2 separate regions of the Homo sapiens genome follow, and region 1 is linked to region 2. The links come from fine-mapping of genetic effects on gene expression. Tissue or cell type: whole blood. Region 2 holds a variant in brackets; the other region holds the start of a gene. All regions are shown on one strand. Distances are between the middles of the regions.

Region 1 (8,105 bases), 170 kb after region 2:
CACTATTAAGGGTAACAGGCTCTTCAACCTTAACTCCTAAATATCAAAGTATTTCTCTTTTCACTGACCTAAGTTGGCATCCTGGCTCACTAAATTGCATGGGCTGTCCCCTTCTTTAGAATCCCATTTTTCCACAGTTAAACTTCCAGGGGCTGCTTTGATCTTCTCCACAGCAGACTCCAGAATGTCTGACATGCCCTGCCGAATGCTCTTCTCAGCCTAGAGCTTCCCTGTCATCCCGGGTCATTTTCCCTTTTCACTTGATTCCTCTCTGTCATCTTCTGTGGGCGGCATTCTCCCCTGTCTGTCTACCCTCACCTCACCATCCCAGTGTCTGTGGCCCTCCCCAGCCTTGGTACCTGCTGTGCCAAGTGCTCTGGTTGACTGTAGGGATTGGACCCCTTGCCTTCTGTGCCTCAAATTTCTCAGGCAATGAGATTGGGGACAGGACCATCTCCCAGCCCGTTTCACTCTAGAACTACCCTCTCAAGCCAGGATATGTGGCAGCCCAGGCATGGACTCTGAAGCCAGGCCACCAGGCTCAGAACCCTAGCACTAACACACACTAGCTGAAGAGCCTTGAGCAATGCCTAACCTTTCTGTCTGCAAAGTGGGAATAATAGCAGCACCTAATCTATGGGGATATTGTGAGGACCAAAAGACTTTATACATGTCAGGTACCCTCTGCTTCCTGGTTCTGAATCCTCCCATGCCTTAAGATCCTTTTCCTCAGTTTTTCTTTTAGCCCTTTCCCCCACCCCAGCAGCCACACAGGCCCCAACCTGTGCCCCTCACATTCAAATACTGCCGGTTGGAGAAGATCCTTCCACAGCCAGGGAAGTCACAAGGCATCAGCTCTCTTTTGGCAGCTTTCCTGAGGAGAAGAATGGAAAGGAGCAGCATGACTCCTGCCTGCCCTTCTCTGCCTCCCTCCTCTCGGCCCTCCCCAGAACCCCATCTCCCTAAGTCCTACCTAATTCTCTTGGGGCCAATTTGTGCAGTGTCCTCATCCCAGGCCGGGGTTGGAGCAGACTGGGCCTGACTCCCAGTGCTACGGGCAGCAAAGAGGGAGCAGAGGGCCTCGAGGGAGGGCCACATCCCAGGACGCCCCTGCCCTTTCTGTCTCAGCCATCAGGTTACCTGGCCAGGGCCTCAGTCTGCTGGGCCGCTTGAGGGGTCCTGCTGAGCTGTGGCTGCACCCTGACTTCTGCAGGTGGAGGAGCTCTGGAACTCAATGAGGATGCTGACAAGGCCGGCACAGCAAGAGGACTGGAGAGTGCTGCAGGGGCTGGTGGTGTCTCCCCCTCTTTAGGTGTGCAGGTGACAGGGGAAGGCAGTAGTCTGGGGGCATCAGGCTCACTACTGAAAGGAGAACAAAGAGGAAGATGGCATTAACTTTCTGGGCAGTCAGCCATCCCCTGCCCGACCCTAGCCCCTAAACTGAAAAGATCTCAAACTTGAAACAACCCTACCCCCACCCTAGGCTCCCCATTCATATCTGCTTTCAGCCCTCAATCTCCCTGCACCTGACTTCACCCCTTTTCACCCCCTCAGTTCAAAGCCTCTAGTTCTTTTTGCCTTCCCCAAAACCCACCCTTCCCTCCACACTAACAAGCCCTTCCCTCTAGTCTGCAAAGCCATGAACTGCCAGGCCAGCTGCCTCCCTCTCTTGCTCTGCTCATTCTCCCTCAACCCCAACTTGCTCATCTGGGGAGGAGCTGTAGGTCCATAAGCTGGCATCACTGAGCATCTCCTCTTCATCCTCATCATTGTCCTCTTCTTCCTCACCCTCTTCCTCTCCTGGAGGTGGGAAGGTCTCTGGTGGGGGTCCCACCCTCCTGCAGGCCCAAAGAAGGCAAGCCTGAGGTCCTGCTCCCTCATCCTCCCACCTATGCAATTCCGCCTTTTCTCTCCTATCCACATCCTCACCTGGGCAACCTGGCCTCTTGAGTCCTCTCATCATGCTCAGATTCCAAATCTGTGGGACAGGCAAAGTCAAAAGAGAAGGAACTCTGGACTCAAGGGATGAGGACACATAAAGTTCTAAGGTCTGAAGTGATGGGAGACTCCTCTTTTTTTTTTAAATAGAGACGGGGTCTCACTATGTTGCCCAGGCTGGTCTCAAACCCCTGGGCTCAAGCAATCCTCTTGCCTCAGCCTCCCAGAGTGCTAGGATTATAGGTGTGAACCACTGCACCCAGGCAGAGACTTTTAAGAAGGAGGAGGAGGGAGCAGAGGCTATCTGAGTAGGAGGAGTTGTTCTGTTTCAGAGATGATATTCACATAGTTCACAAAACTATACAGTCAAAAATCTCCTTTCCAATACTGTCCCCCATCGCCTACTTCTTCCCATAGGCAACCTGGTTTTCTATGTGCCTTCCAGAGATATGTCATACATTCGCAAGTACTTACACATACACACACACACATTCACTTTCCCCTTATTTGTATTTTTCACCAATGATAGCATACCATACACTGTATTTTGTTTTGCTTTTCATGCCCAACAGTGTATTTGATGATATATTTGTCAAGATAGAGTTTTTCCATTGAAAAAGGATCATTTTTAGAGAACAGGGTTCTGAGCTACAGAAAATGGGAAACGTTTTTCCTCCCTTTTCTCCATAACTCTGCTTTTTTCCAGCCTACCTGCAAGCTCCTGCCCACTCGTGGCCTCGGAACACCAACTTCTCCGAGTAGTATGTGGAAGGGAGGCTGGCTTGGGTGCCTCTGAAGGTGTAGGGCTCAAAGAGGGTCCCCAGGAGAAGGTATGGCCTGCTGAGCACTCCCACACAAGCCCCCCATCTTGGCCGCCAGGCCCCCGAAGCCCGGGCACCAGGCTGCACTCTCGGCTGTGGGCATGAGACAAGAGCACCAGATACTGCAGACCTTTTGGAGGCAAAGGCTCAGGACCTGGAGGGGTGGGGGAAGCAGTCAGGCTGAACTGGGAAGTCTCCTCCTCTTACCCTGGAGAGCCATACCCAGGGAGCCCTGTTCCCTCAAACCCCAGGGCAACCTCAGCCCCAGTCCAATTTATCATTCTTCAGAACCTAGACACACTAGATCCTGAGACATTGCTCCCTTCCCCACCCAGAGGTTGCCTCCATCAAACTACCCTGTGCTCCCCAACTCACCCCACCCTTCCCAAACTTACTCAGGGCTCCCTTTGAAAGGAGGGTGTTTCTGGGTCACCCTGTGGTCCCTCTTCCCTCTGGCTCTCACCCCCTGCCATCCCCTACCTACCTGCACAGAGGACACAGCCTGAAGAAGTGTACCTGCCAGCAGGAGAAGAGGCAGGTCAGGACTCAGGTGGCCAGCCACCCTCAGCCCTGGGCACTCACACATGTAAGGGGCCAGCCCTAAGGGCCGCTATTCGCTGAGACCATGAGGAGGGGAGCAGGACCCTCGGAGGCCACAAGTCACACAGGCCGTCCTGGTAAAGTGAGAAACCTGAGGGTGGAAAAGAGCAGCAGGACAGGCCCTGGAGAGGAGGCTAGGGGCTGCTGCCTGGGTACCCTCCCCCAAGCCCTTCTCCCGGCCCCTAACCGGTCCAACAGGAACTTGGCGAGCTGCGAGTGCAGGGAGAAGCCCAGCCGCTCCTTGAGGAGGCACCACTGCTCCATGTGGCCGCCCAGGCGGATGCGGCACTTGCTGCGGCGCGCGTCCAGCTGCCGCCGCTTCTCCCGCCGCCTGCAGGACACGTCCACCGCCGGGGAGGAAGCCATGTGCACCAGAGGCTGGAGGGTGGAAGGGACGTCTTCAGCGCCCTGCCGATCTCGGGGGTCGGGGACCCGGCTCCACCTGCCGTTAGGGCCTCAGTTTCCTCATCAGTGAACTGGGGCAAGACTAAACTATTTCAATAGCAGTGGCAGGTGTGGAGCCAAACCCCGTCCTTCTATGATACAGGGTGTTGAAGCTCAGCGCTACCATGTGAGTGTCGTCGGGTGGGAGGCAGGCAGACAGAAGCAGTCAGAACAAAGGCCTGCGCCCTCCAGTCCACTGAAGTGGAGCTGTGGGGAAGGGGCGAGAGACTTTCACGGGAAATTTCAACTGGGCTGGGGGCGGTCCACACATTTCATCTTGAATAGGGCAGCGGCCTTTACTGGTTTCTAGGGGAAGGAAAGGTCGTGTCCTGGCGTGCAGCTGGGGGCGCTCTTCATAGTTGGGTCGAGTGGCGGTGAGGCCGTGGTCAGAGGTCTGGAGGGCGCCCCCCATCCACCCCGTCTTGGGCACCCCCACTTAATGCTGACAGTGAGTGGAGCGGACTAATCCCAATGGCAGTTCCCAGGCTGCCCAGAGCCCCCGTCGCGACCCACCCCCACCCCGGCCTTACCTGTGCGCCCCCACGCGCCCTCACCCCCACTGCGCCTGCGCCTGCGCCTCCCGGGCCTAGCGAGCAGGCCCGGAGCTGCTGGAAGACAGGGGCCCACCTCGCGCGCGCAGCGTTTCTCTTTTAAGAAGAAACGGTGCCTCTCGGCGTCGGCTGCTGTAGCCCGGAACTGAGGCCCGCGCCCCAGAGGGAGGGGCGAGTCGGAGGCCGACGCCGTGCGCCTGCGCACTGGGTGCCCCGCGCAACGCCCGCCGGGAATCGTGGTTGCCCGACTCAAGTCGCCCGCGCGTGTCGCGGAGCCCCGCGGCAGTTGTGGTTGGGTGGCTTCTGTGGTGAGCGTCTGCGCTTGGTGACCAAAGGTTTGAGGGAAAGTGGAAGAGACAGGGTCAGGCCTCCTGTGCTCCAACCCCAGCCCACCCGGCCTGTATGGGGACGTTGCCTCTTCACTTGTTCCCGTTTTGTATTCACCTTCGATTTCCCCCTCACAGTTGCCACCCGCAAACATGATGCAGAATCAGTCACTTTGAAAGACCCACAGAGGGTCCAGCTAGAGCCCTCTGTGGACCGCAGAGTCCCACCAGCTACAGCCCACTTCTATTACCATCAGAATTCCTCCTAAAAGTTGCCTGCATTCTCTGTGTACGCTCACTTCCCATCCTCTTCTCTTCAAATGGCTCTGATGGAGCTTTCCTCCCCACCCAGCCACTGCAGTGGCGCTTCACAAGGTCACTTGAGACGGTCATATTGCTACATAGCAGCTGTCAGTTCCGTCCGCCTCTCTGCCCTAGAAAGAGCGCGACTATGTAGCTCTCGTCCTCCTCATCTTTATGGCTCCCTCTACATTTTGGGCCCCAGTTTTACTTCTGTGACTTCATATGCTCCAGGTTTTCCACCCTCCTCACTGGCTCCTTCTATCCTTTTTTTGGATCCATTCCCTCTGTTCTGCCAAAAGATGAAGTGTGCCCTGGCTCAGGCCTTGAACCAGATCTTCTCTCGTCTGCATATGTTCTCCTGGGTGATCTAATTAGTTCCATGGCTTTAAATACACTGATGGCTCCTAGCCTAGCCCTCTTTCAACTCCAGTCATATATCTTACTGCCCGCTTGACTTACATGTGTTAACTGAGCTAACACGTGTAAAGAATGTAGGACAGTGCCTGGCATGTAGAGAGCGCTGACACATGATAGCTGATATTTTCTCCAACATAAATATGGCAAACATATAACAATAACGCCTGTACCCTCCCCCATGCCAGTAAACTATGTCATCATCCACCCACTTGTTCAGAAAAAAGGGAATCAGCCTTGATTCTTTGCCTTTTATGATACCTAAACCATATACATCAGCAAATCTTGTTGGTCCTGTCTCCAAAAATTTATCTTAAATCCAATCACTTCTGACCCTCTCAACTGCTAAAACCCTACTCCAAGCCACTGGTATTAATTTTCTGTAATTGTTGTAACAAATTGTGTTGTGTGTTGTTTTCAGCCACAAACTTGCTCCCTTTACTCAAATTTATTTTCTCACAGTTCTGGAGGCCAAGGCATCAGCAGGGCCACAGGCCATTGTAAGGGCTCTAGGGGAGAATCCTTTCCTTGCTTCTTCTAGCTTCTAATGGTGGCCAGCATTCTCTGACTTGTGGCCACGTCACTCCAATCTCTGTCTCTGAGGTCACATTGCCTCCTTCTGTGTCAAATCTCCCTCTGCTTCTCTCTTACAAGGATGCTTGTGAATGCATTTAGAGTCCATCCTTATAATCCAAATAATCTCTCCATCTCAGTATCCTAAGACAATTTCTTCTGTAAAGTATTTGCCATATAAAGTAATCGGCTGCACACGGTGGCTCACGCCTGTAATCCCAGCACTTTGGGAGGCCAAGGCGGGTGGATCACTTGAGGTCAGGAGTTTGAGATGTGCCTGCCCAACATGGTGAAACCCTGTCTCTACTAAAAATACAAAAAAAATTAGCTGGGCATGGTGGCATGGGCCTATAATCCCAGCTACTCGGGAGGCTGAGGCAGAAGAATTGCTTGAACCCAGGAGGAGGAGGTTGCAGTGAACCGAAATTGCACCACTGCACACCAGCCCGAGTGACAGAGCAAGACTCCATCTAAAATAAAATAAAGTAATCTCCACAAGTTTTGGGGATTAGGACACAGATATCTTTTCTGGGACTATTTTTAAGCCTACCATACCACTATCATCTCTCACCTGGTCTGTGGCTACATCTTCCTAATGGATCTGCCTCCTACTTTAACTTGTACTCTCACAAAGCAGGGAAAATTTCCTCAAAGATCAAATCTTTTGCTTAAAATCTGTGAGTGGTGCAATCCAAAATCCTTATCATGGCCTCAAGGACCTACTTAATTGGGCCCTTGGCTTCTTCTCTGGCATCATCCCCCAACTTTTCCCACTTTGTCCTCCCACCTTTTTGCTATTTCTCAAGTGTGCCAAGTATCCTAGAGGGAGTTCTTTTGTCTCTGGAGCACTCAATTCTCCCCTCAGCCCCCACCCCATCCCCCAGCCCACCACCCAGCTGTTCATCTGTTTGCTCCCTTCTCATCTTGTAAATCTCGGCTATAAGATCACCCACTCAGCTATAAAATCCCTCATTCAGAAAGCTCCCTTTCCTCAGTCATGCTCTACCTCACTGTGCCCTATTGTATCTTCTTCATGGCACTTACTTTCTGAAATCATCTCAGGGACTTGTTTGTGTGTTTGTTATTGGTATACGATGATTGTTGACTAGCCCAGCCTTCTCCTCTGCAGCCTAAATATCTCAAATGACATGGTGTGCAAACATGAACACCCTTAGGATGAGCCCAGTGTGTCCTGTGCATATTCCTTTTGATTTGTGGTATCAGTGACTCAACATACTTGTCTGACTAGTGTAAGGTAGGAAGGAAGATGTCCCAGCTACTTTACTCATTAATGAATGTGTAACTTTTCCAGCTACTTTACTCATTAATGAAAGTGTAACTTTCACATCAAAAGAGCAGGACTCCATCGAGAACAAACTTTATCCTTTCCTCATGGTCCCTTAATAGATATCTGCAAAATCCTTGTGGTTTCATCCAAGGGAATGAAAGGTCTTGTAATTCTTGGTTACTCTTAGAATGTTGGGTCTCACTTTGAGACCCAAGAACATTTTTGGTTCTCTTGGTTTGATCTTGTTTAAAATAATAAAATGAAATTACTGCCAATGCCCAGCTCTTCAATAACCGTCTCCAAATAAATCTCTCAGCCTCTCTTTAATTTCTTATATCATCTAGGTAAGGAATGAGCCAACTCTCTCAAAAACAGTCACCAGCCCCTTCCTTTGTAAGTGCTGCAAGGGAGTGCTAACATTTTAAGGAGGGGTTCTCTGTAAACATTGGTTCTCTGCCTTTAGTGACCTCATTGCAGTCTGAGACCTTGAATTCCATCTTAGCATCCCATTACAAAGGCTAAGATTAAATGTGAGCTATTTGTATTTTTGTCACTGTTGAGCTTTACAGTTTACAGACTGCTGAAACTGCCAATTCTTTTATACACATAAAAGGGTCCATGTGGAGGACATATTTATCTTCATAACATTTATTTTTCCTGGACTATGCATGGCACCATAGCGCTCTTCTTATCTCCTGCTTTGGCACAGCCAAATCTAATATTGCTGTACCCTCTGAACTTTTAGTATCTTCTCTCCAAAGAGAAAAACTACTTTCCACTCTCCAGATCCAAGGAGGAATGAGCCAAATTGCTACAGAAGTTGAGTCAACCCACTGCCCTCAAATCC
Region 2 (8,106 bases):
GAGAAGCAGGATTAAAGAGAGAAAACAGAAAAGACTCATTCTTACAAATGTTTTTCTAAATATGATTCAACTGTCAGTCAGATAGCTTCAGGTATGGGGACTTCCACATTTGATTTGAAACTTCCATTTTTTTTCTCTGGGGGATTGGTTGATTATTGCCCAGGGAGTGTAGCCCTTGGGGGCTTTCTCTAGTAGGTAGACAGGCCAGGTCCATCAGATGACTGGTATAGAAATGAAAAATTTCTTATGCAAAGGCCTGACTATTTAAAATACAGGTAAACTTCTTGGGACACGCGGTCCTTTACTTTTGAGGCAACTCCTCTGGGGTTCAAAATAGCTACAAGGAGGTCTTCTCAGTCCCCATAGCTGGCGTATTATAAAGGCATGCACCTCTTTGTCCTTTGTAAAAAGTCTCCCCACTGTGGCCTTTGTAACTTAAAATTACCTTTGGTCAGGTTCACTCATTTTTCTAGAAAAACACATGTTCTGGGTCCATGGTTCTTATACATAAAATATGCTGCAGTCCCACATGGAAGAGTTCTAGAGCCCTTGGATTCAAAAAACACATGATATGCTGTCTTCCAGGAACCTTACCTACCAGAGGCCTCCTACTGGACCCAGTCTGGTTTCTTTACCAGATCCATTCCAATTCTGAACCCAGTCCAGTCAACAAATTGCTCAAACAAAGTTAGAGCTCAAAACATAAATTTGCAGAGTTTGAATCCAAGAGGAAATTTACCCATAATCTTCAGTTGCAGCGTGAGAGCAATGGGCCCTAGTGGGTATCTACACTTGGGCATTCCTTGTTCCGGGGGGCCACTGGGTATCCTTCAAATCTTACTTCTAACACCAAATAGTTAAAAGAAAAACTTTACCAATGAGACAGAAAATTAACAGGCCTATTCAGGACTTGAACTCAGCTCTGGACCAAGCAAACCTAATAGACGTCTACAGAACTCTCTACCTCAAATCAACAGAATATACATTCTTCTCAGCACCACATAGCACTTATTCTAAAGTTGACCACATAATTGGAACTAAAACATTCCTCAGCAAAGGCAAAACAATGGAAATCATAACAAACAGTCTTTCAGACCACAGTGCACCAAATTAGAACTCAGGATTAAGAAACTCACTCAGCACCACACAACTACATGGAAACTGAACAACCTGCTCCTGAATGACTACTAGGTAACTAACAAAATTAAGGCAGAAATAAATAAGATATTTGAAACCAATGAGAACAAAGACACAACACACCAGAATTTCCGGGACACAGCTAAAGCAGTGTTTAGAGGGAAATTTATAGCATTACATGGCCACATCAGAAAGCAGGAAAGATCTAAAATCGACACCCTAACATCAAAATTAAAAGAACTAGAGAAGCAAGAGCAAATAAATTCGAAAGCTAGCAGAAGACAAGAAATAACTAAAATCAGAGTAGAACTGAAGGAAATAGAGAAACAAAGAAGCCTTCAAAAAAACAATGAAATCAGGAGCTGGTTTTTTGAAAAGACTAACAAAATAGATAGACCACCAAGCTAGGCTAATAAAGAAGCAAAGAGAGAAGAATCAAATAGACATAATAAAAAATGGTAAAGGGGATATCACCACTGATCCAACACAAATATAAACTACCATCAGAGAATACTATAAACATCTCTATGAAAATAAACTAGAAAATCTAGAAGAAACGGATAAATTCCTGGACACATACACCCTCCCAAGACTATACCAGGAAGAAGTCGAATCCCTCAATAGACCAGTAACAAGTTCTGAAATCCAGGCAGTAATTAATGGTCTACCAACCAAAAAAAAAAAAAAAAAAAAAAAGCCCAGGAACAGACGGATTCACAGAGGTACAAAGACTAGCTGGTACAGTTCCTTTTGAAACTATTCCAAACAACAGAAAAAGAGGAACTGTTCCCTAACTCATTTTATGAGGCCAGCATCACCCTGATACCATAACCTGGCAGAGACACAACCAAAAAAAAAAAAAGAAAGAAAATTTCACACCAATATCGCTGATGAACACTGATGTGAAAATCCTCAATAAAATACTGGCAAACTGAATCCAGCAGCACATCAAAAAGATTATCCATCACGATCAAGTAGGCTTCATCCCTGGGATGCAAGGCTGGTACAACACATGCAAATCAATAAACACAATCCATCACATAAACAGAACCAATGACAAAAACCACATGATTATCTCAATAGATGCAGAAAAGGCCTTTTTTAAGGCTGAGTAATATTTCATCTTAGGTAGATATCACATTTTCTTTATCCATTTATCCCTTGATGGATATTTAGGTTGCTTCCAAAAAGAATTAGAGCTTCTGCAGCTGCCAGAAAGTAAGCCATCAAAACAGCAGTTGGGTAACAGGAAGAATTCTAACACTCTTGAGCTCATAGGTAGAAGGGACCCTTCATTCATTCAACACACACTAACAATGCATTTATGTCCCAGGTACAGTGCTAAAGGCTGGAAGTATGTGGATCATGCATACATACACAGTCCCTGTCCTTTCAAAGTGTTCAGTCTCAAGGAGGTGTGAGTATGTTAGAAAATATTCTGAGGTGCCAGAATTGCACTAGATGCATTGATGACTTGGAGGGTATTGGTAGGGTAGAATGTTCCCGTCAGAGAATTAAGTATATAGGTACCCTTTCCTCAAAAATGCTTAGACTAGGTAGGGAAGAGGGTGAGGCACAATAGCATATCTTTAATTGGGTGGGGTGAGAACCAAAGAATCGGAAAAACAGACATTCCAGCTCCTCCAAGTTCTTCCAATCGTCAGAACTGTGGAACTAGCCCACCAGGCTTTCTCCAGTCACGTGAGCCGGGAGCCACCAGGATCTCATTGGCCAAGGCTCCCAGAGGGCGGGAAGAGCGGGAAGTGAGGACCAATGGGGCAGGCCAAAGGGACTGTGGAGGCCGACGCATGCGCAGTGCCCTCCGGCCTAGCCCGGCCAACCCGCCTGTCCCGGACCGCCCGGCGTCAGGTACGGGTTCACCAAGCCACCCCGCCCACCTCAGGACGCAGCTGCCGGTCCAGCTGCTCCCGCGGGCCCACAGCGCGCTGTGGAAAGGAGCGGACAGGCCAGAGGCTCTCTCGGGCCTACAAGTCTCTAGGCTAGGCAGTGTTTCCGAGTCCCAGGTGCCTCCAGAGGCCGAGCTCACAGCGCGGCCCACCCAGCATCCGGGGGCGCTGTGAGGGGCGCTCGCCCAGCAGCGGAAAGGCCATTCGCGTGGCGCGGGAGCGCGGGCCCGGCCGCCTGGGCGTGTCCCTTTCGCGGAACTGAGCTCACTGGCTCCTCTCTTCCAGACGGAGCGACGGGGCCGGCCGCAGCCTCAGCCACGCGTCCCTCGGTGGCGGGCAGGCTCCTCTTGGCCTGCAGCCTTACTTTCATGCCCTTCTTCACAGGTGAGCGGATGGCTTGGGGTCCTCCCGCATTTCCCGCAGCGTCGCTCTCTGCATTCCCGCATTCCCAGGTTCCTGCTGCATTCGTGAATTCCCTCCTGCATTCCTGTACTCTCCACTCTTCCAGCCTGCATTCCCACATTTCCACCCTCATTCCTGCATTCCCAACTGCATCCCCCAACGTTGCCACTTTCTCCCCATCGTTCCCACCTGCGTTTCCGCATTCCCACATCCCTGCTCTGATTCCCACCCGCATTTCTGAATCCCCACCTGCTTTCTCTACCCCAGTCCAGCCTTTATTCCGGCATTTCTGCCTTCATTCTCGCGTTCCCAGCCACATTCCCCTTTGCATTCTGCAGACCTCCAATCACCTTTCTTTGTTGGGCAGTGTACTCATCAGCACGGCATAAGGAAAGAGCAGACACGGCTCCTGCCCTCATAATGCTTACAGTCTACAGAACAGTGCTGGGGACACAGTCCTGAGTGTTGCCTTCTGATCAACCACTTAACTGACTGCCTGGCCTCAGGAAAGCAGCTGAGCTTATCTGTTCTTAGGTATCCTTATTAGAGTACTAAGAATATTGGTTCCTGCCTATTATAGTTGTAAGGAACATGTGAGCTAGTAAAGGGCTGACACAATGCCTGGCATGTAATAAGCTCTCATTAAAGAGAGCTTTAATGTTTGTCTGTCTTTCTCCAGAGACCACTTCATGTTGGGAGAATTGTGGGGAGAGAAAATGTTCACCAGTGAAACGTGAATCATGAGCCCTCATCCAAGTAGTTCTACTTCCCCGATTTCCCTGAAGGTTATAGGGTACTGTGTGAGCAGCCTCTAACTCTCCCTGGTTGTTCACAGAAGTAAGATGTTCTGGGTCTGCTTATCGGGAGGAGTCATTCAGTTAGTGCCACATAATCATTTTAACATTTCTCCCATTGCTGCCAGGGCATCCTGCATCACCTCCCAAGCCAGCCTCCCACGTCACCTGGGTGGTGTACTAATTCACGGCCAGGAGCACTGACTGTTCCTGCTCCCACGTCACCTGGGTGGTGTACTGATTCACGGCCAGGAGCATTGACTATTCCTGGCCACCTCCTTGCACCTTTCCTGGTTCCCTCAGCCTCTCAAAGTTCTCATCTTTCCTTTGATGAGAAAGA[G/C]AAGGGCAGACTGAAAATAGACTCACCACCCACCTGTCCTTTCCCCCTGCCCCATACTGGTGGACCAGCATCACAGTAAAAATAGTTACCACTTAGTAAGAATTCATTATGAGCCAACTTAGGATTTTTGATAAGATAAAAGAGTTCAGCATAATTTTACATAAAATTAGTTTTTTCTTGATATATTTTCTTCTCTTCTGCTTTCCACACCTAATAAAACATTACAGAAAGTCTTGTTTTATTTATTTTGAGGACAGGCCTTAGGTAAAATGTGGAAGTTTATCTTGGAGCTTCCAATCTTCAAGTTCTCTTCTCCTTTCCCCATCCTCTGTCTTCTCCACTCTATCCTATCTTATCTCCTCTAGAGCCCAAACCCAGCCCCACTGATTTTTCTCAATCAAAGCTCATTTAAAAAAAAAAAAAGGATGGGAAAATCGTCGTTCCTCTCACTATGAATAGCTAAGAACAGTGCTATTAACTTGCCTGGTATGCTCTGCATTTTAACAGAAATCAAAGTCCAGAACTTTTTAAAAAAAAAAAAAAAAACCATTTACTGGAATATTGGGCTTAAGAGTGTTTGTGCATTTGGTTGAGAGGGCAGGAAGACCTATCAGTCTGCATGTGGCACACACTCTAATAATTTTCTTCAAGTTCACATGCCATTGCCTTGGGACATCAGGGCCCCAGCCAGGCACTGGAGGGGCAGAGGGAGGCATGTGGGCAACTTTGAGGGGAGTGGGAGAAAGTGATACTTAATCTCATACTTAACCAGGTGACCACTTGTTTCCTCAAAAGTGCCCTCCTTTGCTCTGCTGATCAGAGATTGCTTAGTGGTTATGATTAGTAGTGAAGTTTGTTTGAATATAATATTTTCTGTAACAAGCCTTTTTTTTCGGGAGCAAAAACAAATTTTAAAACTTTTTTTCATATATTGTCCCATTTTAAAAATTTACTTACATTTGTTTTTAATTGTGTAACTGTAAAAATAAATAATATATGCCTATGACGTATATTATCCTACCCTCTTCAGCCCCCAACACAACTCCTGTTTAGCAACCATAGTTATTCCTTTCTTGTTTACCTTTCCAGAAATGGTCTGTTACTTACAAACATATCCAAATGCATCTTTTCTTTCCATTGGCAGCATTTTATATCAAATGCTCTACATCTTGTTTTTTTCCCCTTAAAAGTACATCTTGAAGAGCTTTTCATTTCATCAGAATATGGCCATATTCTGTCTATGGTGGTATTCATCTCTGTTTCATGGATATGACAGAATCTATCTAACCATGAGAATTTCAGTCACTTCTGATCACTTCTTATCACAGAGGATGCTACAATGAATGACCTTGTACAAATGCATGTAGGAAAATACCTAGGAATTGCTGGATAAAAGAGCTTGTGCAAATTGTTCTCAAAAAGAAGTATTACTAATTTACCCACCAGAAATAGATGAGAATACCTGTTGCCCCTCATTGCAATTTTAATTTACATTCATCATTACCTTCTGCAGTGATCAAAATGTCTATGCCTGTGCTGTCCAGTACAGTGGCCACTAGCCATGTGTGGCTATCCAGCATTTGAAATGAGACTGGTGTGACTAAGGAACTGAATTTTTAATTACATTTTATTTTAATTAATTTTAAATAGATACATTGGACAGAGTAGCTTCAGAGCAGAGTAGGGTATGAAAGAGTTTGGAAAGAGACAAAAGGGGATATGAGACATATTGCTGAGAAATTATGAATTGGAAGGTCTCTCTAACGTTAACCATTGAAATTTTCGTTATTTTGTCTTTTAATTTTCAAAATTACTTTTTAAAGTGATAAGTTTTTACGAATTACTTTTGAATGTATGCTTTTTTTTTTTTTTTTTTTTTTTGAGAGGGAGTCTCGCTCTGTCGCCCGGGCTGGAGTGCAGTGGTGCAATCTCGGCTCACTGCAAGCTCTGCCTCCCAGGTTCACGTCATTCTCCTGCCTCAGCCTCCCGAGTAGCTGGGACTACAGGCGCCCGCCACCACGCCCAGCTAATTTTTTGTGTTTTTAGTAGAGACGGGGTTTCAACGTGTTAGCCAGGATGGTCTCGATCACCTGACCTCGTGATCCACCTGCGTCTGCCTCCCAAAGTGCTGGTATTACAGGTGTGAGCCACTGCGCCCGGCCGAATCTATGCGTTTTTAAAATTACATTTGGATTGTGCTTCCTCAAACAAGACTCTCCAGAGAAAGCAAGCCTGGTTAGCCCTGGATCTCTAATGGTTGTAGTGGTGGAGAGGCATGTGGGCGTCTCTAGTCTCTGCTTCTCCTTCTCTTCATGGCAGCACCCAGCTCCCAGGCCTCAGCACTGCCTTCCCAACCCCTTCTCCTACCCCGGGTGGAGGGCCAGCTGCCCTCACATTTGCAGGGCCCATGGTAATATGTCACAATACTTAAAAGAAATACAGTAAGCTAAAAACAATAATAAAATATTTTCCATCCTTTTACTTACACAAATGTGTCCTCAGAATGACCTAAAAGGTTTGGAATGTTCGCAAGAGTTTCATGCCAGAGAATTGCAGCACTGAGAAATCTGGATCCTGGTCTCCAGCCCATCTCCTTTCCCCATTCCACACTCCCCTTCAACTGTGAAGGCCATCGCGATCATGTGTGTGGACACGCCAATGCTGAAGTTTAAACTCCCCACTCCCACCACCTCTGACAACTGCTAGGTTAGATCTCAGTCTGTTTGAGCAAGAAATCCCAGGATTCTTGGTAGCCAGGCAAAGTGGGGAAAGGGCATACAGGATCTGGGTGGGCATGTCCCCTTGGTGTCACATACTACTCATCCCATAGGGGCTAACAGAGGCAGAAGAGGCCCTGGTCTGGGGGAGGTGAACAAATCAAAACTACCTTTTGATAGCCTAAGGAGAATTCTTCAGGGAAATACCATGGCTTTTACTCCTTTTTTCCCCTTGCTCTTAATTTTCCACAGATTTCCACCTCTTTATTCATAGTCCCCACCATTCTCTGCTCTGTGCCTGGACATCTTTTACTGGAACAGCCAAGCCCAGTCTTTGCCCATGACAGCAGGTGGCAGCAAGAACACTTGAATGGAAGCGGGGAATCAGTCGACTTCTGTTCACTAGGACATTATTATGGAGCCCCAGAGGCAGATAGTGCAGAAGAAGCTAAGGCTCTTTCTTGTTAGGGCCCCTTCTTTGAGTATCCTGTGCATTCTGCCACCCGTGACCTTTACTTGTAAGACCACATTTTTCTGTGTAAGTGTTTGGAAGTAGACCTTTTTCAGGCCTCCACTCAAAAAATGTCCCTTTTTCTGTGAGGCCTTTCCTGACCAACCCCGTGAATTATCCCTACCCTGCACATCCTGTCCTGTTTTGTCTCTCTCCGTAGTATTTATCATCATCTGACATATCATATTTTTTTCTTCTTTGTTTTTTTCTGCTTCCTCCATCTGAAAATGAGCTCCATAATGGCAGGGATTTTTATAGTAACTCTAGTGTTATTGGATGCGTTTGAAAGTGTCACATG

Evidence for each region. PIP is the estimated chance that this variant, and not a neighbour inherited with it, causes the effect.
Region 1: it holds the start of ZNF692, and the variant in region 2 is fine-mapped to the expression of ZNF692 in whole blood (TOPMed, PIP 0.98).

What each region holds. Positions count from the first base shown.
Region 1 is chr1:248,854,585-248,862,689 of GRCh38, forward strand. It overlaps ZNF692 (zinc finger protein 692), which reads right to left and starts at 4,501. Exons shown (of 12, transcript NM_017865.4): 1 at 4,334-4,501; 2 at 3,547-3,737; 3 at 3,244-3,275; 4 at 2,650-2,913; 5 at 1,930-1,978; 6 at 1,704-1,838; 7 at 1,141-1,362; 8 at 974-1,051; 9 at 796-874. The coding sequence starts at 3,725. ZNF692-DT (ZNF692 divergent transcript) reads left to right here and starts at 4,580. Exons shown (of 3, transcript NR_186117.1): 1 at 4,580-4,662; 2 at 8,045-8,105. RefSeq lists enhancers at 3,306-3,385, 3,986-4,035, 4,836-4,985 and a silencer at 4,196-4,695.
Region 2 is chr1:248,688,791-248,696,896 of GRCh38, forward strand. The region is part of intron 3 of OR14I1 (olfactory receptor family 14 subfamily I member 1); the gene reads right to left. Among named protein-coding and RNA genes, the nearest start is that of OR14I1, 9.9 kb to the right of the region's middle. The variant G/C (reference allele first, on the strand shown) is at 4,581.